Linked DNA regions of Homo sapiens. The protein of the gene in region 1 purifies or fractionates together with the protein of each later gene. This does not show direct contact. Each region holds a gene or a part of one and is shown in the gene's direction. Other genes may lie near its edges. The genes, in order: XAGE2, ZNF462, KLHL8 and THOP1.

Region 1 (4,228 bases):
CTTACATAGTTGATACTCACTGTTTATAATGCACACTGGCAAAGTATAGGAAATGAAGGTGTAGTGTGATTTATCCTTAGATTGTCATTTTATATTAGATTTCAGGCCAGGTACATTGGCTCACACCTGTAATCCCAGCACTTTGGAAGGCCGAGGCTGGTGGGTCCCTTGAGCCTGAGAGTTAGGAACTAGCCTGGGAAACATGGGGAAACACCAGAAAATTTTCTCTGCCAAAAAAATACAAAAATTAGCCTTGGTGGTGGCATGTGCCTATAGTCTCAGCCTCTCACAAGGCTGAGACAGGGGGATAACTTGAGCTCAGGAGGTCAGGGCTGCAGTCACCTGTGACTGCACCCCTGTACTCCAGCCTGGATGACAGAGTGAAACCCTGTATTAAAAAACAAATAAAATAGGAATTCATAATACAGGAAAACAAAAGTGTGACAGCTTTGCATCACATTTATTATCACACTAGCCTACAGGCTTTTATGTCATAACTCTGTGGAATAGAATATTATTACTTCCTTATTTATACTTCATGTTTTTGTACTCAAGTTCAATAACCTTTGTATTTTTTAGTGCCTGACCTGGAAGCCGATCTCCAGGAGCTATGTCAGACAAAGACTGGGGATGGATGTGAAGGTGGTACTGATGTCAAGGGGAAGATTCTACCAAAAGCAGAGCACTTTAAAATGCCAGAAGCAGGTGTGTTATTCATTAAGACACAAAGTTATGTGATTTCTATTTTTTACAATATTATACTTTTGATCATAGAGAGATAATATTACTGCCACTTTAATAACAGTGTTCAAATACACACTTTCTTTGAAAGGTACTTCAGATCCCAATGCCTGACTGCAAGACTTAAATGCTCTCAGATACAGACACAAATTGGGTCAAAGCCATATTGAATCATCAAATATGACAGCATTTTCTTACTTCTGAGTATAACCAACAGCTAACAATTTTCAGATTCTTTTCTAATTTCTGCTTTTAACAAATACATAATGCATTTGTAATACCAGACTGTGTGAAATATGCTGAGTACTGAAGGAGATTCTAGTAGCAGCTCTATGACAATTTGTGAGAATCTGGACAAATTCCATAAATTCTACACCCATCTTTGCTGTTATTGAAAATGGTGAATGCAGATCAAATGTATTAAAATCCGTTTCAATGCTGATTTCTGCATGCTCTGGTTCTGTTGGAGAGAATAGAAAGATATTCTGATTCCCATGATTTGTTTTTCCTAACAATCAGCTTCAGTCCAATTACAATATCTGAGCTGAGATTTCATTGCTCCTAAGAAAATGAGCAGGCACTCTGCTTGATGTTTGTTTTCCAGCATGGAGACTTGAATGAGTGTTCTTGGATTTTGTCAAATTCTGAATTATCTGGCTTTTAAAGAATAATTGTATTTTAAAGCCTTCCCACCGTGAAGCCTTGAATGACTGAATAATAAAATGGCAAGAGACAGTCTACTTTCTGTGGCCAATGAAGTAGGGAGAATGCATGTAGGTCAGTCATGCTCAAGGTGGGTGTAAGATGCCTGTGCTAAGCATGCTTTTTGCTCTCCTGTCAGTCTTCATGAGCTACTGTGTGTAATAAAGACACACATGATATAATCACCTCTAACCATATCATAGGTTACATATTACAGGTTTCTGCCTTGAGACATCAGATGATAGGACTTAAAGTTCAAAGACTATAATGTACTAATTCTTGAGTAGTCAACATAAGTATCTTTTACACATTTTTTTTTATAAATTGCTGACTGTTAATGAGAAGAGCTTCTGAATTTAAAGGAAGAACTCCATGTTTAGGGAAGAAATTACCTAAATGTTTTACTCTGCACTGCTGAACCATTCCATTAAACTATTTACATTAAAAGATAGTTTTCAGGAGCCGATTGAACAAGCCTCAGTTGTATTCTTAGGAAGATCACAGCCTTAAATGCACATCTTATTAGAATAGATAGCAAATTACATGATAAAGTAATAATCAATATAATAATAAAAGAGCAACAGAATAAACCTAATGGAAAAGGAAAGAGGTACTTAATAACAGACAGGTAGGAACCTGGATTTTGGATTAGGAAAACTAATCCAAAAGTAATACATTTAACACATTGTTTATTTTAAAAATAGCTATGAATAGACTATCTATTTGTTTCTCCAGTCTTGAAGAAAATGGGAAAAGCACAATACAGAATATGAAGAAGACACAGATATTGAATATGTAGTATAACTGAAAGTAAATACATTCTTTTGTTTTCTTTTGTTTTACTTTTGAGACAGAGTCTCGCTCTGTCACCCAGGCTGGAGTGCAGCAGCATGATCTTGGCTGACTGCAACCTCCACTTCCCAGGTTCAAGTGATTCTCCTGCCTCAGCTGAGTAGCTAGGAGTACAGGCATGCACCACCATGCCTGGCTATTTTTTGTATTTTTAGTAGAGACGAGGTTTCGCCATGTTGGACAAGCTGTTCTCGAACTCCTGACCTCGGGTGATCCACTTGCCTTGGCCTCCCAAAGTGCTGGGATTACAGATGTGAGCCACCACGCCCAGCTGAAAGTGAATACGTTCTTAAACTCTAATATTTTCGGAATATAGATGAAATGGTTGATAAGCTAGGAATGCATGCATTATTAAATATATCCCAGTAGTACCTGAATATCTATTCATCACAAAGACTGTGCATGAACTTGTGAAATTTGCTAGTTGTCCCTTGATAATATTTACTTTTAGAAATAAATATTTAGTTATTCTAGATGTCTTCCTCTACATCTCCATTTCCCTTTCCGTTTCTTTTTTTTCGTGCCATACTGTTCATGATATATACCTCTTTCATATTTTGATATCAATAATGATAATGATAGATTAAAAGTAATGCGATCATATAATTAATTATACAAAGGGGAATTTTTTCAAGTGTAAAAAGAGATATTTGTATTAACATCAGGACTATAGGTGAAAACTGGGGACAGATGTTTACCATACCTTAATATCTACAGAAGGGTAAACTAACCCAAAGCAACATTTTTGCACTTTGGCACAATAGAGGAAAAAACAAATGCAATACTGTCCTTTCTATTCACCACGCATATGCAGCTTCTAATGTGACATTAACTCTTTTCTTAAAAGATAGTTTTCATACTATTTCCAGGAGCCTATTTGACATCCAGACCATAGTTTCAAGCCAAAATATTAAATTGTACATTTTTTATAAATTCCTTTGTTTCTTAGTTTTTTTGTGTGTATTTGTTATATTTTTAGTAAAATTATACACAATTTTTGCTTTATACATTAAATCCCTTTTTAAGAGTTTCACTTGATTTAATGTGTTCTGACCTCGGACTGTCTTTTGGTTTCCTTGTAGCACTAGAAAGCAGGGTGTGTTTAAAAAATATTAATAATGTATATGTTTGGAAGTTTATCTCCAAAGTCTCCACAGAGGTCTAATTGAATGTAAGCCAGAGGGTGACTCTTGGGTTTATGGTCTTAGTCCACTGTACGAAACAAAAACTTTGGTGTCATTTGCATATCTTAATGTGATCTAAATACAGTTCTGCTAGTAATGTTCCACCTGTTATGTTTCTATTACAGGTGAAGGGAAATCACAGGTTTAAAGGAAGATAAGCTGAAACAACACAAACTGTTTTTATATTAGATATTTTACTTTAAAATATCTTAATAAAGTTTTAAGCTTTTCTCCAAAGAAGTCTTGCACATCTTCTGTTAATTTCTTTTTTTCTTTCTTTTTTTTTTTTTTCTAGATGGAATTTTGCTCTGTCGCCAGGCTGGAGTGCAGTGGCATGATATTGGCTCACTGCAACCTTTGCCTCCTGGGTTCAAGCAATTCTCCTGCCTCAGACTCCTGAGTAGCTGGGACTACAGGCACGTTCCACCACACCTGGCTAATTTTTGTATTTTTAGTAGAGATGGGGTTTCACCATGTTGGCCAGGATGGTCTCAATCTCCTGACCTCGTGATCTGCCTGCCTTGGTCTCCCAAAGTGCTGGGATTACAGGCATGAGCCACCGTGCCCAGCCTCTTCTGTTAATTTCATTCCCAGGTATTTTGATACTATTGAGAATTGTGGCCAGGTGTAATGGCTCACACCTGTAATCCCAGTACCTTGGGATGCTGAGGTAGGAGGATTGCTAGAGCTCAGGAAAGTGACACCAGTCTGGGGAATATAGGAACCCCTCTCTACTACAATGAGTGAAT
Region 2 (3,568 bases), on another chromosome or scaffold:
TCCAAATGAGTTGACTGTCGAAAATAAAATGTTCCAGAAGAACTGGGAGAACAGGAAAGAAGTTAAAACAGCATGGTTTGCATGCCAGTACTAAAGGAAGAAAAAAAAGTTTGGGTTGGGAGGGCATTGGAGAGAAGATAATTGTAAGTTGAACTGTCTCTTGGATTTATAAGACCCAGGAGAAGTTTCCAAATGTGGGAAAATGGGTTTTTATGAATTTAGATTGTATTTGCAGTATGCTAGGAAGCTCTTTTGGATTTTTTTTTTCCCCTTGAACTTTGCATTTGGAGAACTGCACACACTGATAAAAGGGAAATCCATTGGAAGCAATTTGGATTTACATTTTGTGCTTGGAAATGCTATCATAAAATTTATCTTTTTTCTAAGTCCTCCTATTCTCATCAGCTGAAGCACGTACAGGATTTTTAAAGTGTTTGGATGTGTGATTCCAACACAAAGTTAATTATTTTCACGGCTTAGAAGGACAAAGGATAGAGTGGTGTGGTGTGAGGAGGTGCTAGTATTGTCACCTACAAATGCATTGCCTTTTACTTCTGGTGAGCACATTACTTGGTGTCTTCAAAGCATTCTTGCCTAATTCCTAGCTGGAGACATTTTTTCTTGAGTTATTCTTGGAGGGAAGGTTTTTTTTGTGTGCCAGGTCATGGGTATTTTGGTATTGATTTCCTTGCTTTCATGTGTTTGCTTGTTCAGTTCACTGCATGTTGCTTCTGGATATTAATAAAATACTTGTGCTGCGCCTGTCCACATCTTACCCCCAACCTTATTCAAAGAGTAGACCCTGTTCTTTAGGGTGAAAGGAAGTTTGACAGGTACTTATTTGTTCAAAAAATAAATACTTGAAGATGAGAACTGTGTAATTCAGGAAGTTATTTGCTAGACCTTCACATAGACAAATTTTAACAAAGACCACACCAGGAAAAATGGAGAAAATTCTACTAGGAACCAATAGATCCTGATTAGAATGTTTTAGGATCACTTAGTAGGAAATTAAGCATTTGCCCAAGATGAGGAAGCGAAGTCTTACCTTTGGGTTCAGCTTGGTTGGAGCACAAAAGGAGCTGTAGGCCCAGGTGAGACAACTGTGTCAGAAGTAATAAAGCCCAGGATTTGTGGAGAGAGCTTAGCCGCCACAGAGCCCAGCTGGGGAAGGCCAAACTCACTCTTAAGTTCTCGTCTGAGCAGTTGAACCAGAACACACGCTAAGGCCTCCAAATTTTGGAATTCTTCTTTTTCCTGTTCAGATTTAAGAAGGTAATGCCATTATTCTTCAGTTTTGCTCATGTCAGCTGAGTGTTTCTCTTTTGAACTGGGAAATGCCAGAGGCTGGGGGGTGGGAGCCGATGTCCTCTAAGGGAAAATTCTCCCCGTTAACACTGCAAATGTGCCTTAACATTGTACTTATTCCTCCAAAAATAATTGTTCAGTGGCACAATGTGGGATACTTGAAAGATGTTTGCTGCACAAAGGTTCCAATACTTACCTGCAGATTAAGAAATGAGTTTCTAAACCATCTCATTTCTATTGCTAATGAAAAGCTTTGGAAGGCACCTGTGAATTAGAGCTCCAGCTGCTATCATGGTAGGGAAGTTAGGCCTTGAAAGGATACGTGGATTAGCCTGTCAGAAAAGCAAACAGTAGCATCAGCACAAGTAGAAAATAGACAAGGTTGTTAAAGCTAACAGGAAAGTAGGCTAAAGCATTGCTGTAATTTTATAGTGGAAATTTGCTGGGAAGGAGTGACTGGTTGGATGGGAGAAGGAAAAGAAGAGAAGCAGGAAAATAATTGACTAGCCAAATTGAAGAAGTCTGTCCACTGGGGAAGATCCTACAGGAAGAAGTAAGGCATTGCTTTTAAGAAAGCGATTATAGCAAGTAGAAAAAGACCTTGTAATTTGGTACCTAACACATGTGAAATATGAAGACCAGTGCTCAGGTACACATTCTTTGGCCAGTTCCTATTGTAAAAAATAGAATTGGGTTTGGAGGACAATTTATGTGACTTTGGGGTTACAATTACAGCCTTTCTGATAAAGGACAGATGGAAACTCAAGGGAACTGGTTAAGTAGGCCTAGGTGGAGATTTTCCTGGAAAACGAACGAAGTAGAGAATAGAGCACAGCAGAAAACAGCTGCATTATTAATGGACAGAAAATGTGATAGTCCTCTCTGAAGTGATCCATAGAGCTTCTCTACCTACACCCTGGGTGTTAGAAGAAATGAAGAACAAAGACATGCCTTTTCAGAGGGGAAAGGAATGGACTATGACTACTACCTGGCGTCAGTTTGGGTTTCAGCCATTGACTTGAGCCAAGCGTCACAGGCTGGTCTGTCCTTCCAGTCCCAGCATTTTAAAATCCAAAATAAGGCCACTGTGGTCCAGAATGTTTAGCCATTCTAATCCCTAATTACATCATCCCTCTGTGTTATGACTAATTAGTCAGCAATTGAGCACCAATCATTCAACCCAGATTGCCATGGGCCTGATGGAGGGTCCTTCGTTTGGGGTACAATTTGAATGCTGGGTTATAGCTGAAGATGACCAAAGATAGATACCAGCTACAAGTACTTATCACCCAGAATCTTTTCTCTTCAGTGGTTTCTATCTTAAATAGTCTTCTCTGAAGACTAATTAGTATTTGATAACAATAAGTGAGAAGGGAGTCTTTGTAGAAGAGACCATTTTCTTTTTTCTTTTCTTTTTGGAGACAGTTTTGCTCTGTCTCCCAGGCTGGAGTGCAGTGGCACGATCTCCACTTAAGCAACTGCTGCCTCCCAGGTTCAAGCAATTCTCCTGACTCAGCCTCCCAAGTAGCTGGGACTACAGGCACAAGCCACCATGCCCAGCTAATTTCTTGTATTTTAGTAGAGACGGGGTTTCACTGTGTTGTCCAGGCTGGTCTCGAACTCCTGAGCTCAGGCAATCTGCCTGCCTCGGCCTTCCAAAGTGCTACGACTACAGGCATGAGCCACCATGCCCGGCCTCAGAAAAGACCATTTTAATTTAAATATCGGAGTTCAGTTGCAAGAACTTCCCCCCTTTCTGCTGTCAATTGAATATTGTCTGTTCTAATACTGGGTAAGAACAATAGAAAATAAATATGATTGCTTCATCAAAAAAATCTGCCAACTCTATAGAGTGGGAATACCACATAGGACCTTAAAAAATGCTGTCTTCCCTCGTGGACTGACTCATAGTTAATACTGGACAACGGTTTTTATTTTTTTTTAACATTTAATATGAACCAGGGACTGTTCATACGGTAGAGGAAACTGAGGTTTAGGGAGGTAAAGTAATTTAGCCAAAGTCATGAGGCTGCAAAGTGGGGGAGCCAGGATTCACATGGAGTGGGGACTGCCTCCAGAGGCCTGGCTCTCAGCTGATGGGACCCGGCCTTGGTTATTACTTAGTCTGCTAATAGCTTATGTTCTTGATGGTTTATCTCTTCCAGTTGCTTATGCCAGGAGTATATCCTTGGAGTTCTAGAAGGAAATCTGAGAATAATGGAAAATTAATTGTAATATATTATTTGATATGAGAGATATA
Region 3 (3,568 bases), on another chromosome or scaffold:
AAAGCACAGATTTATTGAAATGAAAGTACACTCCACAGAGTGGGAGCGGGCTCGAGCAAGTGGCACTCGAGCCATGATGAAGTCCTAACTAGTGGAGTTAGGAATGCTTTGTATGTTGATAGTCAAGTGCTTTACTAATCCAAAAGCCTTATTTTCATTGTATTTCCATTCATATTGGCTAATCTCTGGAAAATTACTCAAAGTTTTTATTAATAGTTGGTATTTCAAGCTTTTTAAACAAAAGTCTAAGGAATCATTTAATGAATGTTGATATTCTACATATTTTAATACTGAAGTGTGACATGATTTTTCCCTGAGTACTGTTAAGTTTAGCCTGAAGCTCCCACCTTATGTATTTTAAACTTGGCCTAAAAGTTTCTCTGTACACAGTAAACTGTAACCTAACTGGTTGTGTAAACAGACTGCAACCTACTCTTGTGCTAATCACTGAGGTTCAGCCAATTAAAGGCAACCAGTTGTTCAACCTGTGTTCAAGTAAGGCTGACCCTGAGCTGTAACTGACCCGTCTGTTTCTGTACCTCACTTCCGTTTTCTGTGTGTCACCTTCCTTTTTCTGTCCGTAAATAATTTTCGACTATGCACCAGCACCAGTGTCTTTGAACCTATTCTTGTTCCAGGACTGCCCAATTCTTGAATCCGTCTTTGCTCAGTTAAACTCCGTTAAATTTAATTGTCTAAGGTTTTTCTTTCGTAATACTATCTTGAATTAGTCACACGTTCACTGATCTAACAAAGAAAGAATGTAAATTAGAAAATTAAGTAGTATCAGGGACATATAGTATTTATATAATTCTAAATACACGGTAATGTCTAATATTATGTAGCTTGTGTGTTTTTCATCCAATTTTAAACATCAGGTCTTTAGACTTTGATTCCTTTCATTTTCAAATTTCTAATGAAATGATTTTGGTAATTGGTAATTATTTTTTTGTACCAGAGAAAGAAAATGTACAAATAAACTTTCAGGAATGTAATTAACTATATAACATCAAAGGAGAATCAGTGCATTAAAAAGCCAAATTTTTGGCTGTTCCTATTTATACATGTGGCTTAAAGATCTTTATAAAATAAAGATGGATATTTATTCTAAAAGGGTACATAGGGGTGTATGTGTTAAATAGCCACATTTTAGTTTGTTTGAATCAAGACTCAAATGGAATTGTAAAGGGACAGAATCTTATTAAAAACAACATGAAAATGACTTGCCGGCCATTGATTTGTACAGCTTGGATGGCAAGTGTTAAAATAATGGTTATCTAGAAATTGTAGAACCCTATTTTATGATACTATTATGTAAGAGAGTGTTGGCAAGTTATTTAATGGAGCAGGTTTAAGTCATGTGAGACTTACAAATATTTGCATAGAAACTGAATCCCAGTGGTGGCATGTGGAAATAATTTTTTAAAGGATATGCTTAGGCTATTTAAAAGTTATTTAGTATCAGATTTCAGATCCCATTTTAGAGCTGACGTGAATTTGAAAACATGCCAAGCTTTATGTTATAGTCTACATTACAACTTTAGTCTCAATGGAATCTAAATACTGCCTTGTGAGTTCTGTGAAAAAATTTAATATAGCATAACAGACAGAAATGATTGTCTTGTACTTTCTGAAATAAGTGATACTGCTTCTTCCTCCACATTAGTGAAAAAAGACTGAGGAAGGGGCTTTTATAAGCAAAACCATTTATACATTTGAACACTCTAGGAGTTGTCATTTTAAAATTAGTTCTCAAATAATGAGATACAACTGTTTATTATATAATCAAAACACTACATGAAAACAGGAAAACTGTTAAAATAGTACTATAACTGTTACTTGTATTTGATTATTATAAACTCCTGGGAAAATGGGATAAATACTGTATTAAAAAGAAGATATCTTCCCACTCAGTACCAAAAACTTCCAGATGTAAGTAAAAATTTAAGTGTAAAACATAAAACCATAAAAGTAGTATAAAAAATACGTGAAGTAAATATAGAATATTAGAATGATTCCCATTTCTAGCAGGTACCTAAAACAATAAATAAAAAGACTTCATTTAATTACATAAAAATCCATAGGGTTTTTATATAAGAGAATAAAATTTGAAAGCAAACTAAAAGAGAAGTTTGAAATATATATGACAAATGCCTAATACTCTGATTATATGATGAGTACTTATAAATAAAAAATTTGTAGTTCATAGAAGAAATACAAATAGCTCAAAATTTATAAATGATTCAATCTTAAGAGCAAAAAAGAAAAAAAAAGATGAGATCTTTTTATTCATCAAATTGGCAACTATGGCCGGGCACAATGGCTCACACCTATAATCTTAGCACTTTTGGAGGCCGAGGCGGGAGGATTGCATGAGCTTAGGAGTTTGAGATCAACCTGGGCAGCATAGACTTTGTACAACAACAACAACAATAACAACACTCAAGATATGGTGCAAATACTGTAAGAAGCTCAGAAATGGACAGTTTGACATTATGTATTCACATATTCACATTGTATCCTTTGAAGCAGCATCTCTACTTACAATAATTTATCTGTTGGAATAATAGAGAATGTGAATAACGATTTAGTTACAAAGAAGTTCACTAGTGTGCTATTTGTAATAGCATACTGTTGGAAGCTATCTGATTTTTCAATAATTAAGGTGATGAGATTGCAGTGTTTTTTTTTTACTGCTTTTATGTGAGCTATATCATTTCAAGATAATGTAAATAGAAAATAAAAAAAAACCTCAGTTGAGCTCATAGTAAATACTACTAAATATTTACTCTCTGCTCCAGTTTTCTGATTGATAAATTGTGGATAATAATAGTACTTACTCATAGGGATGTTGGGACAACTGAGTTAGTATATGAAAAGCACTTAGAAGGCCAGGCTCTGTGGCTCATGCCTGTAATCCTAGCACTTTGGGAGGCCAAAGTGCGTGAATCACTTGAGCCCAGGAGTTTGAGACCAGCCTGGGCAGCATGGCAAAACCCTGTCCCTACTGAAAAATACAAAAATTAGCTGGGTGTGGTGGCACATGCCTGTAGTCCTAGCTGCTGGGGAGGCTAAGTTGGGGGATTGCTCGAGCCCAGCAGGTTGAGGCTGCAATGAGCCATGATCACGTCACTGCACTCCAGCCTGGGCAACAGGGTGAGACCCTATTTCAAAAAAAAAAAAAAAAGCACTTACAATAGTGGTTGGCATGTAATGAGTGCTAACTGATGTTTGCTGGTATTAATTCACAAAATGTCCCTGAAATATAACATAGAAAATCATGGTTTGTTGTGTGTATGTTACAGATACATATATAAAAGAGGCCGAGTGTGGTGGCTCACACTGGTAATCCCAGCACTTTGGGAGGCTGAGGCAGGTGAATCAGTTGAGGCCAGGAGTTCAAGACCAACCTGGCCAACGTGGTGAAACCCTGTCTCTACTGAAAAAACAAAACCCACAAAAATTAGCCAGGCGTGGTGGTGCACGCCTGTAATCCCAACTACTTGGTAGGCTGAGGCAGGAGAATTGCTTAAACCCAGGAGGCAGAGGTTGCAGTGAGCTGAGATTG
Region 4 (3,568 bases), on another chromosome or scaffold:
GGCGAGGACCCCTGGGAATGTGCTGATGTGTCCCACAGTCTCAGGATCATGCAGCCCTAGTGCTTTGGTAAATCCAGATCAGGGTGACCCATGATAGCCGTGGATTGTTATTTCTTTTTATTTAAATACAGACAGGGTCTCACAACGTTGCCCACGCTTGTCTCGAACTCCTGGGCCCACGCAATCCTCCCACCTCCACTTTCCAGAGTTTCTGTTGAGACAATGAGAGGTTCCCATGCAGGTGCAGGAAAGAATCGAATGCCTTTGCCAACTTTGCCCAGGTCCCCAGTGATGACGTTTTGCAAAACTATGGTGTCATCTACACCCCGATACCGACCTGGAGACCACCAGCAATCTAATTCCCATTCAGCCATCGCACTGGTGAAGGAGCTCTGGACTGATGTCAGTGTGGGGCTCTTCCAAACAAAGCGAACGTTTGCACAGGTTTTATGTAGAGACAGGTCGTCATTTCTCTGAGATAAATGCCCAGGAGTGCAGTTGCCAAGTCACACGGGGGCCGGATGATCAGGTTTTTAAGAAACTGCCAAACTGCTCTTTGGAGCGGCTGCACTGGCCCACGTCCTACATGCTTTGATGTTTTTATTCCAGGAGAAAGTTCAGAAGGACTCACTGAGGCCCGAGGCTGCGCGGTACCTGGAGCGGCTAATCAAGCTGGGCCGGAGAAATGGGCTTCACCTCCCCAGAGAGACTCAGGAAGTGAGTGCTGGGTGTAGGGAGTGCTGGGCGTGGGCAATGGTCGATCCCGGGGAGTGCTGGGCACAGGGAGTGCTCAGTCCCAGGGAGTGGTGGGAGCAAGAAGCGCAGGGCAGGGGGAGTGCTGGGCTCGGGGAGTGCTCGGCTCAGGGAGTGCTTGGGGCATCAGGAGTGCTGGGTTCAGGGAGTGCTGCGTCCCGGGGAGTGCTGGACTCAGGGAGTGCTTGGGCACAGGGAGTGCTGGGTGCCGGGAGTGCTGGGTGTGAGGAGTGCTCGGTCCCAGGGAGCACTGGGCATGGGGAGTACTGAGCTCAGGGAGTGCTTGGGCTTGGGGAGTGCTGGGTGGGGGGAGTGCTCGGTCCCAGGGAGTACTGGGTGTGGGGAGTGCTCAGTCTGGGGAGTACTCGGCATGGGGAGTACTGGGCACGGGGAGTGCTCAGTCCTGGGGAGTGCTCAGTTGCGGGGAGTGCTGGGCTCAGGGAGTACTGGGTGCGGGGAGTGCTGGGCGTGGCCAGTGGAGCTTCTGTGGCCCCCTGCCCCTGCCTCCTCGGGAGCGTCCCCCCTTCAGGGCTGACCCCCGGCCTGATGTCCATCTTTCTTCTGCCTGAGGACCTGAACTCTGGCAAGGCAGGTCCACACAGACATGGGGCGCAGAGGCTCGGTAACGAGGGGAGCCCCTCCACCCACTGCCCGGTGTGCCTGATGTGGGCGTCTCAGGGGTGACATGAGTTAGTTGGTGCAGAGCTGGGAGCGCAGCGCTGAAGTCAAGCGTAGTGTGTTAGCAGAAGCCCAGTGTTCAGCGGCACCAACAGAGCAGTGGCGACCGCCACTGGAAAGATGCGTGTCACAGTTCCCAGGAACTGGCAGCTCGCCACATGGGAAGCATGGCTGGGTCAGGAGGTGTGCTCTGGGCAGGGCCTTCGCTGGGGTCCCTTGTGAAGGCATGGGTGTAGCGGGGAGTGGGCTCAGGGTTGGCCGGCTGGACCATCTCAGCCAGCCCTGGCATGGGGGCTGCCCCTCATCGGGTGCCTGGCCCTAGGGTAATGGGGGCCGGTGGATGGTGCCCCAGAGTGTAGGGGCTCGAGACTAGTTGATTTGCACGTGAAAGATGTTTGCAGGCGAGCTGTTGGCTGTCTCTGGGAGGGGCCATTTCTCGAGGGCCAGCAAGGCACCCAAATGTCAAAGCATCAGAATACAGGCCCCTGATTCACCATGGTGTGTGTTCAGTAGAAACCGTGCTTGGAATGCTGATCTTTCCGAGGCCGGCCACTTGGGCACTTGCTGTCCTGTGACGCTGGGCGCCAGCCACAGCTACCAGCTAGCCTGCAATGACGCAGGCAAACTGAAAACCGAAGTTACATGAGATACCCAACACCTCATATCCGATAGCCTTTGCCTTCGGCGATCTCACCAGAATGTGGGCTGCTGTGAGTTCCTGAGCACGCTTAAGACAGGCCAGGTTAAGCTGTGATGTTCGCTCCTATTAAATGCATTTGTGATTTATGATATTCACAACTCACGATGGGATTATTGGGACATACCCCTGTCCTAAGTCAGGGAGCATCTGTACAGGAAAGAAAGCACACAGTTCAATCAGGTCCCAGGCTGCAGCCATAGCCCCATGGCTGTCCCTGTTCCGGTTCCATAAAGCCACCGCTGTCCTGGTTAGGGGGCGTCTCCACCTTATGGCTGAGGCAACCAAGACTCAGAGAGGCCAGGTGGGTTTGTCAGTGAAACCAGCACTGACGAAAGCGGAGTCAGGGTCCGTCTCAGTACTCGGGGACTGGGGGTCCTCAGCTCAGCCGCAGCGGACAAGAGCCAGTTATTTTTATTTTTATTTATGCATTTATTTATTTATTTAGACAGGGAGTCACACTCTGTCTCCCAGGCTGGAGTGCAACGGTGTGATCTCAGCTCGCTGCAACCTCTGCCTCCTATGTTCAAGCGATTCTCCTGCCTCAGCCTCTGGAGTAGCTGGGATTACGGGCACCCGCCAACACAGCTGGCTAATTTTTTTTTATTTTTGATAGAGACAGGGTTTTACCACATTGGCCAGGCTGGTCTCAAACTCCTAACCTCAAGTGATTCACCCGCCTTGGCCTCCCAAACTGCTGGGATTACGGGTGTGAGCCACTGTACCACAGTTATTTTTAAAACCCCTTCGGCTTGTTGCATGCCCAGCATGTGTGGCCATGTGCATGGTAGAAGCCACAAACTCTCCCACAAGGGCCAGCAAGCAAGGAGGGAGCAGAGGCAGCCCCGCCTGGAGGACAGAAGCGCGGAAAAGGTGCGAGGTCCGGATGCTGGCGAGCAGAGTTCCAGCGCGTCCCCGCGGCCCTTAGGGCCAGCGCTGTGTGCTCATTGAGTCTCCAGAGCCTTCCCTGGCATGGCTGGGTTTGTTATGTGAGATGGCAAGAGGGGGAGACATTGGGAATTGCCCAGCATGGGGCCTGTTCCCAGGAGAGGCCCAGCAAACCCTCAGCTGGTTCTGAACCAGGGCCTTCCTGACAAGATACAGGCTCCCTGCAAAGTCCTGGGCACAGTTTCCCCCTGCTGCCGCCCTCTGTCCTGCGGATGAGCATTTCTGCTCTGGCCCCATGGAGCTGGGCTCCAGACCCGCCTGGCGGAGCTTCCAGCAGGAGAATCTGAGTCAAAGTACAGCCCTGCTGCCAGCCTGTCATGTGTCATGTGGCCTCAAGCCAGGTCCTTGTCACATAGTGGTCACCTCCCAGCCTTCAAGGCCACCAGAGGGACCACTCAAGATTCAGTTCCTTTGTTGATATCCCATATCACCAGGGTCGAGTTTTAGCTGTTTCTAAAACCAGCTTTACCAGATAAGGGGTAAAATGTTCAA

What was found.
Region 2: the proteins of XAGE2 (region 1) and ZNF462 purify together in Homo sapiens (affinity purification with mass spectrometry; one large-scale study listed by BioGRID and IntAct). This does not show direct contact.
Region 3: the proteins of XAGE2 (region 1) and KLHL8 purify together in Homo sapiens (affinity purification with mass spectrometry; one large-scale study listed by BioGRID and IntAct). This does not show direct contact.
Region 4: the proteins of XAGE2 (region 1) and THOP1 purify together in Homo sapiens (affinity purification with mass spectrometry; one large-scale study listed by BioGRID and IntAct). This does not show direct contact.

What each region holds. Positions count from the first base shown.
Region 1 is NC_000023.11:52,371,965-52,376,192, forward strand, and holds the end of XAGE2 (X antigen family member 2), read left to right. Parts: intron 1-579; coding exon 580-705; intron 706-3,604; coding exon 3,605-3,627; 3' UTR 3,628-3,716; downstream 3,717-4,228.
Region 2 is NC_000009.12:106,869,658-106,873,225, forward strand, and holds part of ZNF462 (zinc finger protein 462), read left to right. Parts: intron 1-1,287; exon of another isoform or gene 1,288-3,568. UniProt on the Homo sapiens protein: Zinc finger nuclear factor involved in transcription by regulating chromatin structure and organization. Involved in the pluripotency and differentiation of embryonic stem cells by regulating SOX2, POU5F1/OCT4, and NANOG.
Region 3 is NC_000004.12:87,186,101-87,189,668, reverse strand, and holds part of KLHL8 (kelch-like protein 8), read left to right. Parts: intron 1-3,568. UniProt on the Homo sapiens protein: Substrate-specific adapter of a BCR (BTB-CUL3-RBX1) E3 ubiquitin ligase complex required for The BCR(KLHL8) ubiquitin ligase complex mediates ubiquitination and degradation of RAPSN.
Region 4 is NC_000019.10:2,795,472-2,799,039, forward strand, and holds part of THOP1 (thimet oligopeptidase), read left to right. Parts: intron 1-609; coding exon 610-717; intron 718-3,568. UniProt on the Homo sapiens protein: Involved in the metabolism of neuropeptides under 20 amino acid residues long. Involved in cytoplasmic peptide degradation. Able to degrade the amyloid-beta precursor protein and generate amyloidogenic fragments.